Linked DNA regions of Homo sapiens. The protein of the gene in region 3 purifies or fractionates together with the protein of the main gene of each other region. This does not show direct contact. Each region holds a gene or a part of one and is shown on either strand. Other genes may lie near its edges.

Evidence for each region.
Region 1: the proteins of SPZ1 (region 3) and SNTB2 purify together in Homo sapiens (affinity purification with mass spectrometry; 2 studies listed by BioGRID and IntAct, with this or other methods). This does not show direct contact.
Region 2: the proteins of SPZ1 (region 3) and DTNA purify together in Homo sapiens (affinity purification with mass spectrometry; 3 studies listed by BioGRID and IntAct, with this or other methods). This does not show direct contact.
Region 4: the proteins of SPZ1 (region 3) and NEURL4 purify together in Homo sapiens (affinity purification with mass spectrometry; 3 studies listed by BioGRID and IntAct, with this or other methods). This does not show direct contact.

Annotation. Positions count from the first base shown.
Region 1 is NC_000016.10:69,237,720-69,243,416, reverse strand, and holds part of SNTB2 (beta-2-syntrophin), read right to left. Parts: intron 1-5,697. UniProt on the Homo sapiens protein: Adapter protein that binds to and probably organizes the subcellular localization of a variety of membrane proteins. May link various receptors to the actin cytoskeleton and the dystrophin glycoprotein complex.
Region 2 is NC_000018.10:34,716,082-34,721,778, reverse strand, and holds part of DTNA (dystrobrevin alpha), read right to left. Parts: intron 1-5,697. UniProt on the Homo sapiens protein: May be involved in the formation and stability of synapses as well as being involved in the clustering of nicotinic acetylcholine receptors.
Region 3 is NC_000005.10:80,317,084-80,323,036, reverse strand, and holds SPZ1 (spermatogenic leucine zipper protein 1), read right to left. Parts: upstream 3,036-5,953; 5' UTR 2,822-3,035; coding exon 1,529-2,821; 3' UTR 1,195-1,528; downstream 1-1,194. UniProt on the Homo sapiens protein: Transcription factor that binds to the DNA sequence 5'-CANNTG-3'(E box) and the G-box motif. May play an important role in the regulation of cell proliferation and differentiation during spermatogenesis.
Region 4 is NC_000017.11:7,321,426-7,327,122, forward strand, and holds part of NEURL4 (neuralized-like protein 4), read right to left. Parts: intron 5,585-5,697; coding exon 5,286-5,584; intron 5,124-5,285; coding exon 5,012-5,123; intron 4,919-5,011; coding exon 4,830-4,918; intron 4,289-4,829; coding exon 4,216-4,288; intron 4,049-4,215; coding exon 3,784-4,048; intron 3,556-3,783; coding exon 3,374-3,555; intron 3,056-3,373; coding exon 2,970-3,055; intron 2,846-2,969; coding exon 2,683-2,845; intron 2,588-2,682; coding exon 2,389-2,587; intron 2,299-2,388; coding exon 2,222-2,298; intron 2,139-2,221; coding exon 2,060-2,138; intron 1,699-2,059; coding exon 1,523-1,698; intron 1,442-1,522; coding exon 1,310-1,441; intron 586-1,309; coding exon 440-585; intron 363-439; coding exon 135-362; intron 35-134; coding exon 1-34. UniProt on the Homo sapiens protein: Promotes CCP110 ubiquitination and proteasome-dependent degradation. By counteracting accumulation of CP110, maintains normal centriolar homeostasis and preventing formation of ectopic microtubular organizing centers.

The DNA.
Region 1 (5,697 bases), on a different chromosome or scaffold from region 3:
AAAAGAGCAATGAATTTTATCTGAGTTGATGGCAATGCAGTCCATACCCCCATCTAATTAGCCATCCAGAATGGCTGAAGAGCTGTGGATGGACATCTGTTTCTATGTTTGGGAATGGCAAAAAGTTAACAGTCTTCTGTTTCAGTCCTATGTTAAGGCCTTAACCTGGACACGTGGCTGGATAAGCAGAGCCTTTACACCCCCACATGGAGCTTTCAGTTCAACTCAGAATCCACAACATATTTCAGAATCATTTCATTTTTCCTGATAGTTGAAGATAATCCTCAAAATAATTTAATTAAACACTGATGTTTACAAACTGTTTTGAGTGTTCAGATGCTGAAGCTAATTTTCTTTCTTCCATTCATGTATCCCTTTTTTTTTTTTTTTTTTTTTAAGATGCAGTCTCACTCTGTCGCCCAGGCTGGAGTGCAGTGGCACAATCTCAGCTCACTGCAAACTCTGCCTCCTGGGTTCACGCCATTCTCCTGCCTTAGCCTCCCCAGTAACTGGGACTACAGGCGCCCGCCACCACGCCCGGCTAATTTTTTGTATTTTTAGTAGAGACGGGGTTTCACCGTGCTAGCCAGGATGGTCTCGATCTCCAGACCTCGTGATCCACCCGCCTTGGCCTCCCAAAGTGCTGGGATAACAGGCTTGAGCCACTATGCCCGGCCTCACGTATCCCTTTTACTGAACGTGAAGGTGGGCTTCCTCCCACCCCAAAAGCATTACTGTGATCCCTTCTCTTCTTTAGAGTGACAAAAACACATACATGTACTGCACACATGTACCTGTAAAGATGTCTGGAAGGAACTTAATCAAAATATCAATAGTGCTTATATACAGGTGTAGGATTGCATTTTTTTCTTTATGTTGTTCTGTATATTTAAAATTTTTGTTAAGTCCATAGTATTTATTTTAAAAACGTATTTAAGAAATGAAGAAAACTTATTCTGAGACCTTGTTCAAACTCTATCTTAATTTTATTTTTGAGACAGGGTCTCACTCTGTCCCTCAGGTTGCAGGGCAGTGGCACAATCATAGCTCACTGTAACCTCAAATTCTTGGGTTCAAGTGATCCTGCCTCAGCCTCCTGAGTAGCTGCAACTATAGGCACACACCGACACATCTGGCTAACTTTTTAATTTTTTGTAGAGACAAGGTCTTGCTATTTTGCCCAGGCTGATCTCAAACTCCTGGCTTCAAGCAACCCTCCCGCCTTAGCCTCTCAAAGCGTTGGGATTACAAGCATGAGCCACCACCCAGCCTGTTGCTCAAACTTTAAACATGAAAGACATGTAAACGGAAATCTTGAGGCTTCAAAAACTATAATGCACTGGATAGGATCCAAAATCCAACTGATTCTTACTGAATTCTAAGCTCTAATGAATAAGGTTATGAAGAGTTCCATGTTTGGGGCATGAGGCAGCATCTGATTTTAAACTGAATGCAAGTGGCTTCTTTTTTTTTTTTTTTTTTTTTTTTGAGACAAGGTCTGGCTCTATCACCCAGGTTGAAGTGCAGTGGCATGATCTCAGCTCACTGCAACCTCCGCCTCCTGGGCTCAAACCATCCTCCCATCTTAGCCTCCTGAGTGGCTGAGACTACAGGTGCACACCACCATACCCACCTAATTTTTGTACTTTTAGTAGAGACAGGGTTTTGCCATTTGCCCAGGCTGGTCTCTAATTGGTGAGCTCAAACAATCCACCCGCCTTGGCCTCCCAAAGGGCTGGGATTATAGGTATGAGCCACTGCACCCCACCTGTTAAGTGGCTTTTTTTTTTTTAGTAGAGACGGGGTTTCACCATGTTGGCCAGACTGCTTGCCAACTCCTGACCTCAAGTGATCTGCCCACCTCGGAGTCTCCCAAAGTGCTGGGATTACAGGCTTGAGCCACCACGCCCACCCTGGCTTTTTAAAGCTTATCTAGGCTGGTGCTGAGCATGGTGGCTCACACCTGTAATCCCAGCACTTTGGGAGGCCGAGGTGGGTGGATCACGAGGTCAGGAGTTCAAGACCAGTCTGGCCAAGATGGTGAAACCCCATCTCTACTAAAAAATATAAAAATTTGCCGGGTGCGGTGGCAGGCACCTGTAATCCCAGCTACTGGGGAGGCTGAGGCAGGAGAATTGCTTGAACCCAGGTGGCAGAGGTTGCAGTGAGCTGAGATTGTGCCACTGCACTCCAGCCTGGGCTAGAAAGTGAGGCTCCATCACAAAAAAAAAAAAAAAAAAAAAAAAAAGCTTATCCAGGCCGGGCACGGTGGCTCATACCTGTAATCCCAGCACTTTGGGAGGCCAAGGCGAGTGGATCACTTGAGGTCAGGAGTTCAAGACCAGCCTGGCCAACATGGCGAAAGTCCATCTCTACTAAAAATACAAAATTAGCCAGGTGTGGTGGCGGGCACCTGTAATCCCAGCTACTTAGGAGGCTGAGGCAGGAGAACTGCTTGAACCCGGGAGGCAGAGGTTACAGTGAGCCAAGGTCATGCTATTGCACTCCAGCCTGGACAACAAGAGCAAAACTCCATCTCAAACAAACAAACAAATAAACAAAACGAAACGAAACAAAAACCTTATCCAAAAAGGATACATAATAGGGCAGACACAGCCTACGGCTGCAAACACACATATTTGGATAAATGGATCAACCTCTTTTATAAACATCAACTTCTCATATAATCGTTATGTTCCTTTTTATCTCTAACTCTTACCTTTTCCATGCCCCAACTGGTGATCTTTACTATGAGTTTAAGTGAAACTAAGTTAGTCACACAACATTATTTCCCCTGCTTTTGCAAGCAAGTTTGTTCCTGGATTATTCTCAGAGTGGAATATCTGGCTGTGCATTTTGCACAGGAATGAGTTATGTTGACAGTCACTGTTAAAGTATTCTCTCAGGAGGATTCTCTCCAACCTCATCCCAAGCTCTTCTCTCAAGTCAGGAGGCTGATAAATGACCACCAAAAACACGAGGAAGGAATTGCTTTGCTTTGAGTAAAAAGCCTTTTACATTCTCAACTTGCAGGTGTCTTTCAGCTCAAGTCTCCTGGCCATTTGGGGTTTGAGTAGACTGCAGTCTAGAGTCTGGTGACATGAACCTTGAATGAGTTCAGAGTGACTCTTTCACTCTTCCTCTTCATTCTAAAATAACATAGCAAATTCACTAATTTATTGAGCTCCTACTATATACCAGGAACTGTTTTAGGCATGTAGAATTATTAGCCAGTGAATAAAATATGCAAAAAATAATAATGTAATTAATAATTTAATGAAATTCTAGAGAAATGAAAACTTACATTCACACAAAAGCCTGTACACTAATGTTCTTAGCAGCTCTATTCGTAAGTACCACAGCTGGAAACAACCCAAATTTCCTTCAATGGAAGTGAATGGATAAACTGTGATACAGCTATAGAATAGAACACTATTCAGAAATAAAAAGGAACAAACTATTTATAACTCAGTAACTTGGATGAATCTGAAAGGCATTATACCAGTCTCAAAAGTTGTATGACCCCATTATTGAAAAGAAAAAAATATATGATGAAAAATTCAGTGGTTTCTAGCCAGGCGTCGTGGCTCATGCCTGTAATCCCAGCACTTTGAGAGGCTAAAGTGAGCAGATCACTTGAGGTTAGGAGTTCAAGACCAGCCTGGCCAACATGGTGAAACCCCACCTCTGCTAAAAAAACAAAAATTAGCCAGGCATAGTGGTGCACGCCTGTAAGCCCAGCTACTCAGGAGGCTGAGGCAGGAGGCTTGAACCCAGGAGGCAGAGGTTGCAGTGAGCTGAGATTGCGCCACTGCACTCCAGCCTGGGCAACAGAGCGAGACCCTGCCTTGACTAAATAAATAAATAAATAAATAAATAAAAATAAATTCAGTGGTTTCTAAGGGTTAGGGGTGAGAAGGGATATGATTATAAAGGGATAGCACAACAGAGTTTTCTGAAACCATGGAATGGTCCTGTATCCTGATTGTGGTGACAGTTACAAGAATTTATGTATGTGTCCAGATTCATAGAACTGTATACCTTAAGGGGAAAAAATTCAATTGTACAGTATGATAATTACAAAATAAAATAAGTAAATTATACAGTATATTGGAAGATGTTAAGTGTAATGGGAAAATGAAACACAGCAAGGGAAGGGGTCAGAAATGCTGCCCAGGGTGTCAGTTTGTAAATTTTAAATATGGTAGTTAGGGTAAGCCATTAATAAGATGTTTGAACAAAGACTTTAGGAGATGGGGGAGTTGGCCATGCAAATATCTGGGAGAAACATTCCAGCCAGGGAGACAGTGTTAGGACAGTAACAGGAGTTACTAACAGGAGTGTTAGACAGTAAGGAGACCCAGAGTAACTGGAGCTGGGTAAGTGAGGGGGACAGAGTAGTAAATGGGGTCACAAAGGTAACGGGGCTGGGAGGCAGACCATGTACGGCCTTTTAGGTCATGGCAAGGACTTTGGCTTTTATTCTGAAACAGGAAGCTATTGGGAGATTTTCAGGAGCAAGTGACCACTATGTTGAAAATAGAATAAAAGAAGGCCAAGGCAAAAGCAGGAAGACCAGCTGGCAGGTTAACAGGGATGAGAGATGATAGGAGTTGGACCAGGGGAATAGTAGTGGAGGTGGTGAGAAGTGGTCAGATTCTACATCAGATTACATAAGGGGGTGGCAAAAAGAAGAGTCAAGGATAATGTCAAGATTTTTGTCCCGAACAAGGCTAGAAGGATAGCGTTCCCCTTGACAGCTTTAGAAGAAAGATCAGGAACTTGAGACATACATTAGACAATCAAGTCTAACAGGCAGCTAGATATATAAGTCTGCAGTTCAGGAAATGGGTGTAGGCTAAAAACATAAATTTGGGAGCTATTAGCATATAGTTGCTATTTAATGCCATGAAACTGGATAAGATCACTGTATCAGTCAGGATCCCAGCAGGAAACGATAGTAAGGGATTTAATAAAGGGACAACTTATGAAGATGTGGGCAGAGTGCAGGGAAACCACATGGAAAAATAGAGTGTAGTATCCCATGGCTATTAGCTGTTTCCACATGTAGGCCTGAAGGAAATAGGAAAGAGAGTGGGTACCAAACCCAGAAGAAAAGAGCCCTATAGAGACCGATGTGAGAGGAGCAGTGACTTTCAGTCAATTCAGCCAGATTGCACTGACCTGCGAATTGGGGGCCAAGGGGATAAATGCTCCAACCTCACCCTCCTCCTTCTTTCCCTCCAATGTCCTATTGGGGCTCTACATTGGCCAAACCCAACAAAAACCAAAGGCCAAGGAAGTCTGCTGATGTTGTCCACGCAGGTCAGCGTCCGGGACAGATGGCATGTAGAGAAGGAGCGGACCTAGAAGAGCCAATGGAAGACTTCCAGCACAAGCAAGGAAGTGAGTACGGAAGAGAAAGCAGACACTCCACTATTAAAGGGCTGGGGAGAAAAGAAGGAGGTAGGCAGAAGATCCACGAAACACAAGTGCTCCATAGAAATACTGGCTTAACAGGCATGGTGGCTCATGCCGGTAATCCCAGCACTTTGGGAGGCCGAGGCAGGAGGATCACCTGAGGTCGGGAGTTCAAGACCAGCCTGACCACATGGAGAAACTCCGTCTCTACTCAAAAAATACAAAATTAGCCAGGCATGGTGGCACATGCCTGTAATCCCAGCTACTCGGGAGGCT
Region 2 (5,697 bases), on a different chromosome or scaffold from region 3:
AAGACAAACACATACGTAGGAATATACTTGGGAATTTCATAGGCAAGATAAAATTGTATATTGTTTGGGTGTTGCATGGATATGAGAAGCAGAGTAGTTTTGGGGCTCATGATAATTTCCTTTGATTAGTTTTGCCTAAGTATAAGTTGTCTGCCTTGTTGCCTTCTGGCTTTGTCCAGTTATTTTAAGTCTACTCATTTATATGTTAGAAGCTAGATTATTTTCTTAAGTTAAAAAGAACTGCGTCACGTTTTTGTTTGTTTGTTTTTTTTCATTAGTTTCCCATGTTGGGAGTTGTAATTGCAGAGTATTCCCTTCTACTCCAAAATAAACAACCTTTTAATCCAGTGTGTGAGAATCAGAATGATTGCTCTGGAGGAGTACAAAGAGACAATAATCAAGCAGTTAACACTTATTAAATACCTACTGTGTACATAAACTACCTTGAAAGTATGTTTAAAGGGAGAATTTAATCTGAACAATCTGAGTAAATGTAAGAGTTCTTTATTTGTAATAGCCATTTTCTAAAGGTAAATAGCTATCACTGAGACAATTTTTACTTTTAAAGGTGAAGAGGTGTTGAATGAAGCAGGATGCATTAGTAAACCAGTAAATTAAAATTTGTGCTTTGCTATCAAACCCAGTGCCTCTAGGAAAGTAATTGAGCTTGATTTCCTTCATCCTTATAAAGGAATTGATGGTGTCATCAACCTCCTAGGATTGTGGGAGATTCAAATATAACATAATTGAATATTTTGCAAACAGTAAATCACCATACAAATTTAGTTATTATGGTTGATAAAAGCTTGTTACTTCTCCAGATAACCAACTACACATAACATTTGCAGAGATTATTTCAGACACTCTATGAATCACTAACATTATCAATGTATTCCCTAATAGTTGGAAGAAAACCATCACCATTTAAGCTCATGGAGAAAAAGCCATCACAGATGGGAGTAACACAGCAGAGAACAAACCTCTAGAGAGAGATTCCCCACCCCACATCCCCAGCTCCCACACCACAGAATCAGAGTGGTGACAGTTCTGCTGATCCTTCCACTCTCTCTTCCTTGTCCTCTTATTGGGTGGTCGGCCTGGCACACTTGCCCAGTGACATTACTGGTGAAAACCCTGTGAATTCTCAGGTCACTGATGAAGACAAAGGGAACTATAGGAGCCACCAAAGCAGACGACAACTTCTGATTACTCAGAATCCAGATTTTGCCTTTCCCTTCTCCTCTGTAGTCTCCTGTACCTCTCTAGCTTTCTCACATTTCTTCCTTCCTGAGCCATGGTATTCTCAAAGCTCCTCTGCCTTACCTGTGTCTTAACCCAAACAGCATCATTCCCTGCTGGAAATCCAGTACAACAGAGGCATTGTTCTTTCATTGCCTGTATCTACAATGTTTAAGTATCTTTAATTATGCTTTTATTGACTTTCTTATTTCAGTTAGATTTCAGAGCCAGCTAATTTTCCATACAATTCTTTTTGTACAGAGGATGACAATCAACCCACCCCTACCAGCCCACATTATAGGGAAAGGAGATAAGAACCAAACTTTGAACCTAACTTTGTTCTAGAGTCTGGTTGGGTTCTGCCTGGGTCCACCTGCTTGACTTTGACTTTGTGACCCTTCCACCCCCTCATGACTATGCCTTGGCCAGCCTCTGGCCTGATTCCCTTTTCTGGCTGCCAACCTCGCACTAGCTCCCTTAGGTTATAAAAATATTAGCGCATTTAATTCCTAGTAAGACGGCAATGAACAAATTGACATATTATTCAAATACCAAGCTTGGAAGGGAATTCCATTTGCTCTTATTAGTACCATTAGCAGCAGTCATTCTCTGTCAGAAGGTCAGAGCCATGTAGATGAGTATATAGAACATTTCAATGAGGCCCATTCTTTGAGGTAAAAACTTCAACTGTGCCAGTCAAACTGATTGACAGTATTTGGGTAGAAGAAGAGTTTCTCCAATTTATAAGGGCATGCTCCTAAACAAAGCTTTCTTTACACTTTACATAAGAAAAATCCAGAGCTGCCCTAAAAATCTTGTTACTATTTCTGAGCAGTGTCGGTGTAGAATGACATAAATACCGGAAAGTCTTCTAAATCTTATTACATAATGATAATTGCTAACATTTTTGCAGGTTTACTATATGTCAGGCACTTTGTGAGCACGTTACAAGTATCATCTCTGTACATATTATAAAATTAACATAGATTAAGAGTAGGCAGGATGGCGTAGTAGTTGAGCTGATTAAATAGAGCTCTCTCTGATTAACTGTATGCTGTTTGGGGGATTACTTAACCTCTCGGGCCTTAATTTCTTCATCTGTAAAATAAAGATGGTAAAAGTACCCTGCTCATAGGGTTGTTGTGAGGATTGATGGAGAGATAATAACTACTTATTTTTTTATTTTTTTATTTTTTGAGATGAAGTCTCACTCTGTCACCCAGGCTAGAATGCAGTGGTGCGATCTGGGGTCACTGCAACCTTCACCTCCCTGGTTCAAGTGATTCTCCTGCCTCAGCCTCCTGAGTAGCTGGGACTACAGTAGACCCACACCACCATGCCTGGCTAGTTTTTGTTTTGTTTTTGTATTTTTAGTAGAGACGGGGTTTCGCCATGTTGGTGCCAGACTGGTCTTGAACTCCTGACCTCAGGTGATCCACCCACCTTAGCCTCCCAAAGTACTGGGATTACAGACGTGAGCCACTGCATCCCACCACTACTTACATTTCTTCAGTGATTTCCATGTTCTATGACTGTTCTCCAAAAAAAAAGGGTTAATTGCCTTAAATAGGTTAAACAAAAAGTACTTAGAACAGTATCTGGCACTTAGAAAGTCTTCTATTTTCTTAAATCCGAGAACTCATGGAACTCTCACATGATGTGCTCCTCTCTGTCCTGCTGTATGTTCAGGTTTCCTAGTATCAAGCCACACATGGTCAGCACATTGCCCAAATGGCTGCTATTCTTTCCTCACTCACTCTGGCTTGTAGTTACTGCCAAAGTCCTCCTTACAGTCAGACTAATGCCCATACTCTTCAGTAATACCTTTCTCCTTTCATTTCTTTATGACCAAGACCATACTCCACCTCCTCCACCATTTTTCTGCATTTTCCACCCTTCTTTTTTTGACTGCAGTGATCATAAGGCTTTGGAAGAAATAAAACCTAACGTCTTATTAGAAAACAGTGGGGGCTTTGATGCTGGAATAACAGCTTCTACTGTCTTCCCACCTATAAATGAACCTGGATATACTGCCAAGAGAAAAAAGTCCATCAAAATGGGGTAAAGACTGGAGAAGAATAATGTACCCAAATCATAAATTCAACAGACGATTGCTTTTTTGACCTTTCTAAACGATGCCTAATTATATACTTTTAAAATTCTTGTATTTTTGGAAGAAATAAAAACACTATTTGTCAAAATCAAAGAATGTTAAGATTTTAACGAAAGAGGAAGTCTCATAAATATTAAGTTTCCACCTCAGTTACATTACATCCCCAAACAAAATTGTCATGTGTCATACATTTCAACTACATACATGATGTAGTTGCGCCTACTTCCAAGAGGATGATTTATGTAAGTTGGTCCTGTTTGAAAAACTTGCATATTGTAAGATACGCTCAGTTTCCTTGGCCACAAAAATCCTGCTCCAGCATTGTATGCAGTAATCGACAATTTTCAAGGGGGCTTAAAAGATAAATCAGTTGTTCTCTACCTGACTTATTGTAAAGAGAAGCAACAGACAAAACACCTCTCAAATCTACTCTTTTTAAATTCTACTTTCATCCCCTTAGCTCATAACCTCCCTCATACTTGTTCTGGATTGTAACATTAACTTCTGGACTCATTTCTGTCTACACACTAGTCTATTTTCTGTGCTGCTGCCATTATTACATTTCCAGACATTTCTGATTCTCATCTCTCCCTGGTTTTCCCATACTGTTCTGTTTCTCAAGATCCTCCTTTCCCCAGCTTCCTATTGAACACTGGCCATTTCTTTAAGGTTTATCCCAGTGCTTCCTTCTCCACACAGCATTTTCTCTCCCCTCCTCTGTAATATCTGCTCTGCACCATTTACTCCTTAGGATACTCCAAGGATTTCCTGAATCAAGGAACTCTGCACTACTACTATCTTTTCAATGTCAGTGTCCAACACAAATATATTCAATATAAGGTTTTTTAAAAAAAATAAATGAGAAAATGAATGAGCATTAAAATTCTTAAGCAAACAAAACTACAGACTACTTGAGACCAACACTTCTCTGGAAAATCTTGGACTTGCAGTCACTAGAATCAAAGGATTTCATTGATCTGTATTTCTGTAGATAAAAGGGAAATTGCACAAAGAATACTCACCTTCTTGTCCTATCTATATCATCCGAATTTAGCAGAGGTGCTTGAAATTAACCTCCGATATTAAATAAAAGACCCTATTTGTTGTGCTTAATTCTAGAGTGTCACTGTCTATTAAGATAGCACTAGACACACGTGGCTATTTCAATTACTTAGCATTAAATAAGATTTGAAATCTGTTTCATCAGTCGCACTAGCTACCTTTCAAGTGTTTAATAGCCACATGTGGCTAGTAGTTACTATATTGGACTAAGAAGATATAGAGCATTTCCAGCATCACAGAATTTTGAACAGATTGCTCTGGAGCTCTGCCTCTCCACCACACCTAAATGTAGGTGTGGCCCAGTTATTCAAGCCCAGTTATCCTCTGCCCATCCTTATATGAGCAGAAATTTCTTTAGAATAAATTTCAAAAACTAATAATTGGAATGTATACCCTATTTAAAATATTTTGTTATTTTCTCTCACAGTCAAGGCATTCCAGATTTTACCATTTGGTATTGAATTTCAGTGAAATTATAAAAATCTACCCTTCCCACTTGATATGAGACTTCTTATTTGCAAATCAGCGGTGAAGACAAACACATATACATGGGTAAAGGGATTCACAGACTTTTCTACTCTTTAACATTATTATTTTAATAATTTCATAAATTTGCATATTTATATTAACTCAGCTAGTTAGTAGCATGATTCAGGCATTCCAATTCTTAAGCCAAGACTCTTTTTCTACACCATGTTGCCTATACATGTTCCATCTAAAGAGTTGGGAAGTCAACAGTTAGACCAGCATATAGCCATGTCTATGACTTCTTGCAGCTTTTTTTCTTTCTTTCTTTTAATTGAGATGGAGTTTCACTCTTGTTGCCCAGGCCGGAGTACAATGGTGTGATCTCGGCTCACTGCAACCTCCGCCTCCTGGGTTCAAGCGATTCTCTTGCCTCAGCCTCACAAGTAGCTGGGATTACAGGCGCCTGCCACCACGCCCAGCTAATTTTTTGTATTTTTAGGACAGATGGGGTTTCACTACGTTGGCCAGGCTGGTCTCCAACTCCTGATCTCAGGCGATCCACCCGCCTCGGCCTCCCAAAGTGTTGGGATAACAGGTGTGAGCCACGGTGCCCGGCCGACTTCTTACAGCTTTATAGCTTCTAGAGAGGAAATACGAGCTCATGTGTTTTCTATATTTCTTGGATTTTCTTTTTCAGACTGCTATTGTCTGAAACAACGAAAAACTATGTAAATACGTTAGACTATTTATTTTGTTAGGACATATTCCTAGTAGTAGAACTGTAGGGCCCAAGGATATGCAATTTTTAAAGACTT
Region 3 (5,953 bases):
GACATTTTTAGGTTGTGGACTTCTCCAGCACCTAGCTCAGAATATATAAGAGGCAAAAAGAAAACCCAGAGAACTAAGCACCATGTTGTTCCTTAAGTTTCAGGGTCCCTAACCATTCTACCTCCTTCTCTCCATCTTTCAGAATCTTCTTATATTTGCTTTATATATAATGTCCAGGGGTTTCAGCTTACTTAAAGAGAAGAATAGGGGAAAATTTATCAGCTCCATCTTTTCTGGAACCAGAAATCCAGCTCCCTTAACAGAAGATACTGTTTTTTCCCCCTGGGTAACACTACCGTCTATATCTGGAGGAATGGGAGAAACTTTTCCAGCAAAAATAAAATCTAGGCCGGCACGGTGGTTCACGCCTATAATCCCAGCACCTTGGGAGACCAAGGCAGGTGGATCACCTGAGGTCACGAGTTTGAGATCAGCCTGGCCAACATGGTGAAACCCCATCTCTACTAAACAATAAGAAAAATTAGCCGGGTGTGGTGTGGGCACCTGTAATCCTGCAACTCAGGAGGCTGAGGCAAGAGAATCGCCTGAACCTGGGAGGTGAAGGTTGCAGTGAGCTGAGATCGTGCCATTGCACTCCAGCCTGGGCAACAAGAGCAAAACTCCACCTCAAAAATATATAACACAATACAATACAATACAATACAAAAATAAAATAAAATAAATAAATAATAAAATAAAATATAAAATAAAATAAAATAAAATTCAGATATGTCTCTATTCTTCCAAACAAGTTGAGGGGGTCCTTCCCAAGGGCCTCTGCTGCCCCGTATGCCCACAGTTCACTAGCAGAGGAGCAAGGGAGGCACCTTAGGAAAAGTAGAGCCAGTGCAGATTTATAAGAGAAAAATGATTTGTTAGGGTTGGATTATCAGCATTTTTTAAATTCCCCCACATCCCACACTTCAGTGTATAATAGGAAAAGGAAACATACATTTAGAAAGGGAGCTTTAAAAGGTCACAACTAAAGCATTATGTACTTTTTTTTCACTTAATTTTTTTTTTAGAGATGGGATCTTGCTGTGTTGCTCAGGTTTGTCTCAAACTCCTGGCCTCGAGCGATCCTCCCACCTTGGCCTCCCAAAATGCCACTGCACCTGGCCAAAAACACTATATACTTTTTCCCCCCAGAACTCCCCCTGCCCCCAGGCAATGATTAAATAAAGAAAAAAAAAATTTCCCTTGTATTCTGGTTTTTATTTAGATCTTTACTTAATTGGACCTTTAACTTCTCACTCTAGGCTGTCTATCTAATAATTACAAAAAAAACAAGCAGATTGTAAAGGTGAAAAGTTATGAACTTGATGTAGACACAATGGTCATTAAAGACCAGACTTACATAACTGCTGAAGTAATGAGTAATATAAGTGTCAATCTCCTTATTCTATAGCTCTTTCTTGGTTGAACCAGCAGATCTGCCCAAGGTTTGATGATTGATCATGACTGACAAGTTGGAGGTAACAGATGTAGTTTTTTAAGGATTCACCTTTTCATCTGCTTTTGGTATTTTCTATCTTAGGCTGCTAGCTGACCTCATTTTTCCCCTAAGAGCTTTTCTTGCAACATGAATATTGAACTGGGTATTGCAAGCTTTCTTATTAAGACAAACATCCAGGCTTCTACAGGATCTGTCTTTTTTCCAAAATGTACCCTTCATTGCTTGCTTGTTCTGCTTATACATTTCTACTTTCTTTGCTTCTGATGGCTTCTGATTTTTCTTGTCCTGTTTATAGTTTATCTGAATTGGCTTCTCTTGCAGAGTTCCCTGTTTCTGATGATGGAGTTCCTTGAGAATCTCTACTCTCTGCTGTAAGATTTGGCATTCATTCTCTAGCAAAGCTGCCATCAACTGCAATGAATAGGTGTCATGGCTCAGTTTCTTCACCTGTTCCTCCAGCTCATGCTTAGCCGACACTTCATTATTTGGCTGGGTTTGGAAACCGACTCCATTATTTCCAAGAGTTTCACTTATGTCTTTCTGAGATTTCTGATAGGATTTTATCAGTTTACTGAGCTCAGTATGTTGTTTACTCCAGTGTTCTGCTTCCTGTAGTAACTGCTCCATGTTGTTCCTAATTTTCATAGTTTCTTCTTGAACATTAAGTCTGTTTTTTGCTTTTTCCTGACTTTGTTGAGTTTCGTTAAGGACTTTTTTTTCTTCTAAACGATTTACCAAATCTCTTGCAAAAACTTGTGCGGTGTTCTCAGAGTTCTGGTTTTCCATTATCATCTGCTGTTTCTTTTCATTGTCTTCTTTCTCTGGGGCTAAACTAACAGGCAGGTTTGTTGATAACATTTCATTGATTTTGTCAAGTCCTCTGATATTTTCTTTGTGGGCTGACACATCCTCAGTAATATTGGTTTCCAATATCATCTCCTGTTTCTTTTCATTGTCTTCTTTCTCTGGGGCTAAACTAACAGGCAGGTTTGTTGATAACATTTCATTGATTTTGTCAAGTCCTCTGATATTTTCTTTGTGGGCTGACACATCCTCAGTAATATTGGTTTCCTCAAAAAGTTCTTTTGCTTCTGTGATCTTCTCTTCAAAACCTGCCATATTTTTAAGAATATCTTTAATTTCTTTTAAGAGATTGTTAAACTTCTGTGCAGTCTGTTGTTCTGTAACTTGATGGCTGCTATTCTTTAGGAAAGGGAGAGAGCCCCAGGAGGAAGGGGAATGTGATCCAATTTCGAATAAGGCAATGGTAATCCTAGGGTCCAGATATTCTTGATGAGGATCAGGAGTAGGGTTAACGGTTTTGGAGATGGTGGGCATCTCAGCTGACTTAGCAGAGCTGGCCATCAGGACAGAAGGAAAGCAGAAAACTTTAGAGATTCCAGGAAGGACAGGTGATGGTCCTTTGTGCAAATGTGGGTGGAGACTGTGGAATCAAGCAGAAGTCAGAGACCAAAGTTAAGGATTAAAATTTGGGAGATGATGTTTAGGTGGAAGGTGGCATCTCAGACAGCCTTGTGGGGAGGAAGGGTGGGAAAGGGGACCAAGGCTGGGGCTCCATCTCTTCTCCTCTAGGCACCCGGTGTTTATTCTCTGGCCCTAGCAACCAGGTCTTTATTTTGTCACTGCACCATTGTGGCCTATCCATAGTGTCTGTCTCCTTTGTGTCACAATGGAAGCCTCTTAAATTCCTGCCCAGTGACTCCTGCATCAAAACCAACCTTGAGCTATCCCTACTCCTCATGCCAGAAAGAGCTCTACAATAGCTCTTCCCCTCCTTAATTTCTAGGTTGCTATTCATCTCAGTCTAAATGCACTCAGTTACTTCTCTACGTCACCTCTATCCCCTCACAATCCTGACCTCAACCGCAGCATGTTTTGACCACTTAAGGACATTGCTGAGACCAGTCCTCTCTGGTGAGGTCCCCATCCTTTCATAGCACCTAGAGGCTCTATTGCTCCCATTCTAGGAGAGATGTGACTGTAAGAGAAAGTTATCCACACAAAACAAAACCCTGAGAGTGACAGCCTTTTGTGATTTTAGGAAAGTAATGTCAGGAGTCCCTCCATTCAAAAATATTCTACTGCTCCAAGAAGGGACTATCTGAATGGTTATAATAGCAACACAATTACAAACTGGGACTTTTCTTGGCTTTGAATATAGGCATCCTTTAAGACAGGCTTGGCAAGCTTACTCACAAATCATTTACATCAGGTGATAGAAAACTTTGACTATTACTTTTCACAGTAACTTATTTGGGGATTTTTTTTTTGGCTCTTTTATTGATCCCCTAAGATTTCCACACTCTACACAGTAACTTGTTAAAATGACATAGTTATATTTCTAAAGTGTTTGATTAGAAGGGCATGGTAGTGTGTGCCTGTGGTCCCAGCTACTTGGGAGGCTGAGGCGAGAGGATCACTTGAGCCTGGGAGGTTGAGGCTGCAGTGAGCCATGACTGTGCTACTTAGTGCACTCCAGTTTGGGCAACACAGCAAGATCTATCACAAAAAATTAAAAAATTGGCCAGGTGCAGTGGCTCATGCCTGTAATCCCAGCACTTTGGGAGGCTAAGGCGGGCAGATCACTTGAGGCCAGGAGTTCAGGATCAGCCTGGGCAACATGACAAAACCCCATCTCTACTAAAAATGCAAAAATTAGCTGGGCATGGCAGCACACACCTGTAATCCCAGCTACTCAGAAGGCTGAGGCATGAGACTTGCTTGAACCCAGGAGGAGGAGGTTGCAGTGAGCTGAGATCGTGCCAGTGCACTCCAGCCTGGGTGACAGAACAAGACACTGCCTCAAAAAAAGAAATTAAAAATTAAAAAATAAAAAGCATTTGAAACAGGTAAATTCTCTAGTGGGTTATAGAAAGTAACAAGTTTATTAAACTTCTTGCATTTTAATAAGCTGCTTTCTTGTCTTTTTGTTCTTAGGAGTCAGGTCTTGTGAATATAGAACTCAATCAAAGAAACATTTCTTGTGTATGACTTTTTCCTGGCCTTCAAAATCTTGCTAGCAAGCACTTTAATAGAAATTTGCTTCCAGTCTTAAGGGAAAACTCATACTCAGGTTTTTTTTCCCCTAGAGAAGAGAAATTTATATGTTTTCTTTCTTCTCCAGTTACCAACTCATTTTGGCTCTAATTCCCCAGAGCCTCATGCTCATCTTTCAGCCAGCTGGGCTCCAGGCCATCGTCACTGACTACTCACAGATACAGCAGGGTTGGTCTCTGCTTTTACTTGAAAAAGGAACTCCTTTTCTAATTCACACAATGACAGCATAGATGCTAGCAACTGTCCTTATGCTTTAATTCCATCTTAGAAGTTCAGCATTGGTTCTTATTTCCCCCTTTGACTCAAGCATCATTTAAGACAATTTCTTAATCTCCAGCACAGGGGAATTTTTGATAATTAATTTCTAGCTTTATCATACTATATTCAGAAAATGTCTGTAATGTTTCTACCTTTTGAAATTGATATTTTCTTTCTGGCCTAATAGATTATCAGTGTTCATGTATGTTCCCTAGATATTAAAAAGAAAATGTATTCTCCATCCTCTTGTGCTTGCAGCTTTTTAATGCTGTCAGACATAAATCTAATATTGCTCTTGTCTTGATTTTTTTTTTTATGAAAACTGGTTTGAAGGTAGCATGGTCAAGATACGAAGATAATTTTTTTCTTTAATCTGAAAAGAGCCAGGCATGGTGGCTCACATCTGTAATCCTAACACTTTGGGAGGCTGAGGTGGGCGGATCACCTGAGATCAAGAATTCGAGACCAGCCTGGCCAACAGGGTGAAGCCCCGTCTCTACTTAAAAAAAAAAAAATTAGCCGGGCATGTGGCATGCACCTGTAATCCCAGCTACTCGGGAGGCTGAAGAAGGAGAATCGCTTGAACCCAGGAGGTGGAGGTTGCAGTGAGCCAAGATTGCACCACTGCACTCCAGTGTGGGCAACAAGAGTGAAACTCCATCTCAAAAAAAAAAAAAAGAAAGAAAGAAAAAAACAAAAACAAAAACAAAATCTGAAAAGGATTTAAATATTTCCTTTCCCCTACAACTAGAATGAATTCCAATTAACAGTTGTTAATTTTGTTGGAATGTGTTTACGTTAGGAACTGAAAGGTAAATAGATTTTGAGAAACAAGAGTGGTCCTCTTGTCTCTATTGACCCATATTCCCCAGTGGATAACCATGGAGGTTAAACACATTTGGACTGTTTTACAATTTCTATCCACTAAGTTTCACATAGCTTAATGACTCAAGAAAGAAAAAATTGGCTGGGCATCGTGGCTCATGCCACTCTGGGAGGCTGAGCTGGGAGGATCACTTGAGCCCAGGAGTTCAAGACCAGCCTGGGAAACATGGTGAAACCCCCGTCTCTACTAAAAATACAAAAATTAGCCAGGCATGGTGGCGCGTGTTTATAGTCCCAGCTACCTGGGAGGCTGAGGTGGGAGGATGGTGTGAGCCC
Region 4 (5,697 bases), on a different chromosome or scaffold from region 3:
CTGCCCCCCGACGAACACCCACACGGCTCCCCACCTAGGACCGAGGTAGGACAAGGACGGACGATGTTCAGCCCACCTCTCCCTGCCACCTCCACTCCCAACCCCTCCCCTGTCCCTGGAGCCAGCCACTTCACCCCCAGCCTCTCTAGGTTCCGGCCATAGTTCATCCTCTGGAGCTGCCCATCACGCCTCACTTCACAGCTGGATACCATCCAAGTGGTCTTCGTCCGGAGCTCTGGCAGGGAAGGAGGCAGCCCTGGGCCACCACCGCCTGCCCCGGGTCCCATCTCCCCCGGTGCTAGTGTGGTCAGCCCCAGCCGCAGGGAACCTGCCCACTTCTCATCTAGCTCTTCCACTTTCACCTACGAGACAGAGAAAACATAAGCTGGCCCTGTCGTGATGGGCCTCGCAGCCCCTCTGTCACATCACTACGGCCTACCTCAAAGACTTCCTCAGCCCTCAGCTCCTTGGTACTGAAGACAAGGCCATGAGCATAGCCAGCGGCACGCACTGCCCTCGTGCCATCCTCCTCTAGAGTGACGTTCTTGCCGCAAGTACTGTGGAATCGGTGAGCCACGCCAGCCACTGTGAAGAGATGGCACCAGTAGAAGGGGTAGGATTGGGGCAGCGAGCTTCAGGCAGAACACAGAGCAAAGCTTTCAGATGAAACGAAATGGGGATGCCAACGCCCCATCTGCCATCTGCCATTACACCTCAGGGCCTCCTGACACCTCTTTATTGTATTTTGTTGAGGCAGAGTCTCGCTCTGTCACTCAGGCTGGAGTGCAGGGGCACAGTCGTGGCTCACTGCAGCCTCGACTTCCTGGGATCCAGCTATCCTCCCACCTCAGCCTCTCAAGTAGCTGGGACCACAGGTGCATGCCACCACACCTGCCTACATTTTGTATTTTTGGTACAGACGGGGTTTCGCCATGTTTCCCAGGCTGGTCTCAAACTCTTGTGCTCGAGAGATCCACCTGCCTTGAACTCCCAAAGTGCTGGGATTACAGGCGTGAGCTACTGCGCCCGGCCCTGATACCTCTTTTCACCACAGCAAGGCCCATTTCCAAACCTGGCATGCTCAGCTTATGGTGTCCTGGCCCCTTGGTGGCAGGGAAGTGTCCAGGCTCTAAGTACCAGGTGTAACCTCCCCCTCACTGGCTGCTTGCCACCGTGGGCTGTCCCTTCCCTGGAGCCGGCAGCTACCCCAGCCAACCGTCTTTGCAGAACCTCTCTAACCTGGAAACCCTACTCCTCAGGTGCACAGCAGGCAAGCAGAGCCCGTCCAGCCCCCGCCCTGCTGCCGCACCTGGGGAGTGCAGTGGGAAGGACTTCTCGGTGGCAGTGTTGCTGGTCGCCAGGCTGTTGTCCATGGGGCCGGTGGCATTGGTGATGGACACTTGGACACACTGGCCATAGAGATCGACTACCGCATACACCTCTGGGGAGGAGAGGGAAGGTCAGAAGCCTGACAGCCAGGTGGTCTGGGCTGAGGGTGGCAGGCTGAAAGCCACATAGTCACCTTTACCCGGAGGCAGGCCCGAGCAGGCAGCGCCTTGGTCCTGGCCGTTGATGAAGTAGTGCAGGTCGCCCTTGGCAGTTCGCATCATGCCAATGCGTGCACCTGTGCCCAGCGCATCCAGGTCACACCCATAATTGTTGCGCATCGTGTTACCGTCTTGCATGATGGCTGTACCACTGGGGGGATGGCAGAAGGGGTGAGTCAGCCTGCCAACTTCAACTTCACATTGGCCCCTGCCCACTCCCTGTCTGTCAGAACCCTCCAATGTCTTGGGCTGGTGTCTTGATCTGGGTGTAAGGCCCAATCCTATCTCCTCTGTCCCTGGGATCCCCTTAGGAAAAAGCAAGAACTGCCTAAGATGAAGGAGGACTGAGCCCCTGTGGGCCTGGGCAGGACTTCCCAGAATTCAAGGGGAGGGGACAGGTAGATCCCCTAGGTCTGTCACTACCCACAGCCACCATAGGCCCAAACCTTGCTTCCCTGATCCCAGCCAGCTCCACTCAGCCCCAAGCTGGTCCCCAAAGCAGGAAGCCCAACCTCAGCATCCATGTGTCATAGTCAATGTCTGTCATGGTGTTGGGGAATTCCAGGTCTTCAGGCCGAATAGCAGTCACTCCTGGGAGGAGGCAGGGGTAAGTCAAGGCCGATCCCCAAGGCACAGACATCCAACAGCCCCCAACACACACAGACGGCCCTCACCAGCCTCAATGGAGCCTGACCAGCGGTCCACCATCTTCTGAATGACAATTTCAAACAGCTCTCCATCCCGCAGGGCCCTGCCAGGAGACTGGCGATCAGAGAGGCTCTACTTGCATGGCTGAGGCTGGGCAGGAGGAAGGTGGGGACATGAAAGTTGAGAGACTGACCGGTTGGAGATGACGATGGCGTCATTAAACTCGCTGCGACAGTTGTGGCGGAGGGCGGTGCGGCCCCCGTTAGTGATGACTGCGTTACTGCCGTGCAGCTGATGGAAGCGCAGGTCAGAGCCCCCGGCCCCTGAGGACGGAGAGCTTGGAGACACCTGGTTGTTCCCCTCAGGGAGTGGTTCAGGAACTGGAGCCACCTCTGTAAAAGTGGACATCACCCATCAGGTCTCTAGGTGTCTCTCAGACCTCCCAAGGCCACCCTAACCCCCAGCCCCAGCCCAGCCCGGCCCTCACCCACGTCGTCCACAATGGTGGCCTGGGCCGCCTGGCCATAGAGATCGACGACAGCATAGACGCCCGGGGGCACGTTCCAGGCAGCAGGGCCCTGAGTCATCCCATTGACAAAGAAGTGGAGAGTCCCGTCCTCCCGCCGTACCACGCCCACCGTGTCCCCTGCCTTGGAAGAAGGGGGTGCTGGAGTGAGGAGTCAGGCAGAGTTCCTGCCGGGGCTGGTCCTGCATCAGCCCCGCGGTGTTTGTGATGCCCGCTGCGGCCGCCAGGCGGCGCACCCACTTTCCCACCTTGAGGCGGTCCAGATTGTGCCCGTATTCATCCAGGATGGTCGTCCCATTGTGCATCACCCCATTCCCAGTCATCATCCAGGTCCCTGGGAGGACAAGGAGCAGGAGGGGACATGAGGGGAAATGCAGGGCTCCTCTCCTTGCCACAGCAGCGCCCACAGGACTCCCGAGCCCACAGTCCACCTTGCCTTTTCTTTGATGACTAGATTTCTTCCCTGAGCAGGACAAGAAAACTCTGCAGCTTCCAAGACAGCCACAGCCCTGCCCACGGGACACTCTCTAGCCACTGAATGAGTGGTCACAAGAGTGACAAGTGAAAAAGGAGCTGCAGAACAAGTGCCAGGGCTTTGGGGATAGCTTCCCCCCAAAACCCTATCCTGTCCCTGCCCTTCCTGGGAGCTCACCAGAGCGCAAGTTGGTCATGGTGGAGGGCAACTGGAGGTAGGCAGGGTTGTGGGTGGTGACACCAATTTCAATGGAGCCAGCCCATTTGTCCACCATCTTGTCGATGCGCACCTGGAACACCTCTCCATCCCGCAGGGCTCTGCTGCTCAGCACCACGCCGTGATTGAAGTCATCGGTGGCACTGAGGGCACAGCAAGTGGAGAGTCAGATCCCCAACACACGCTCTCAATGTGCCAAGGCTTAGCCCAGCAATGCCTGCCAACACTCACTGCCCCAAGCCAAAGAACTAAAGCTCAACCTCCAGGAAGCTGCCCCCGCCAGGCTCCCTCTGCCTTCCACTTCCTTGCCCCGCCCCCCCCCCCCCATTAGAATCCCTTCTTCAGGCTTCTCCCCACCCCATGGGCCATACTGGGGCCTCAGGGCAGTGCGTCCCTCGTGGGTGATGGCTGCCTTCTGCCCACAGTTGGGGTGGAAGAGCAGGCGCTCAGGTTCTGCCTGGGCGGCAGGGGCAGCACGGCGGAGAGCACCCTCGGGGGACAGCGCCCGCAGGATGGCGTTGTTTCGGCGGAGACGGTCACTGTGGTTGTTATTGTGGACGATGGTCACCTTCACTGCCATCCCGTACAAGTCCACCACACCATACACCACTGGGGGCGTCAAGGGGGTTGCCACTCCTGTGGCAGGAAGGTACGGGGGTGTGGGAGTGGACAGGGAGAATGAGGGGAGAAAGTCAAACACAGGGAGGCCAAGCACCAAAGAGAAGCAGGAGGATGAGGTACAGCCCCCAGTCCCAGCCCCACCGAAAGCCCCGGCCCAGAGGCTCTCTCTGGGCGGCCCTTACCCTGATCGATACCATTAATGAAGAAGTGTAGGGCAGAGTTGGACTTCCTTGTGAGGCCAATGTGGTCACCCTCCTAATCAAAGAAGACAAACAGTTTAGAGGAGTCCTGAGGCCTGCTCAGCACCCCACTCCACACAGGAACAACTCCAGAAGGTATTCGTGAGAGTCTCAGACCACCCTGGAGGACAGGTCCTGGGTCCTTGTTTTCCAGACATGACAATTTCCACATTTCGTCAATGCTCCACGTGAGTCAGGCACTGAGTTAAACCACCTCACAGACATTAGCTTCTACAAGTCTCAGCCTATGGAATAAGTACTACTCGTAGGCTCATTTTAGAGATTGCAGGAGGTGGGGGAGCAATCAAAGAGGATAAGCTTCTTGCCCCGGTTCGCTACTACAAATGGGAAAACAGTAAGAGGAATTCAACCATCTGACTCCAAAATCTGAGTGCTGAACTCTTGGGCAACTCAGGCTTCTAGGAAGGAACCTTTAGGTGGAAGATACAGGGACTGCCTCTAGGTCACATAGGAGACCCTGCTTGGTGCCCTGGCAGGGACACAGAGTACCTGTGGCTCTGCTGAAAGCGGCCCAGGGATCTGTGCCCCACCCTCACCTGCAACTCATCCAGACTGAATTCGCAGTACTCCCGGCGGGTGCCCTTGCCATTGGTCAGGATTCCACAGCCGCTCATCATGATGGTGCCTGGGTGATAGTGGACACTTGGGTTCGGGTACGGGGCTTCCTTCCCCTCAGCAACACCAGGCCTGCACCCCCGCCCCTGCCCGGGGCTGGTACCTGACTGGAGGTTGGTCATGGTGGCTGGGTACTCCAAACTGTTGGGGTTGTGGGTGGTGACCCCAATCTCAATGGAGCCTGACCACTTATCAACAAGCTTGTCGATACGGATCTGGCATTGAGGGACAGAAGGGAGAAGCAGGGAATGTAAATGCAGAAAGGGACCTTCAGCCCTTGGTTCTTCCCCAGGGCCCACCCTCCTAGCACCAAGGGTCAATCCCCATCTTTAGCTCCCAGGGATAAGGCGCCAACCAGACCACAGGACTTTGCACACCTCAAACATCTCATTGTCCCGAAGGGGGCGATTGGTCATGACAACCCCATTGTTGAATTCATCCAGGGGCCGCCGGCGCTCAGCCGTCTTATTATTGTTGCTGAGTTTGATGAGGGTCCCGCACTTTTCATGAAAGAGCAGGGCATCGTTGGAAGTGAGAATGGGCGAGGTGGCAGCACCGCTAGATCCCAGGCCTTCCCCTGCCGGTGGGGAGCTCAGGTTCACATTCAGGAGCCCTCCATTGTAGGCAGACAGGATGGTGTTGCTCACCACCTCAGACAGCTCCATGTTGGCAAAGTCTATAGCAGCAGGATGGAAGAAGGAAGCTCGGAAGTTGGGATGAGGCTCTACACCCCCAGACCTGGTGCCTCTCTCCCTACCCCTTCTCCTGAGGGCCCTCCCTTGTCCACCT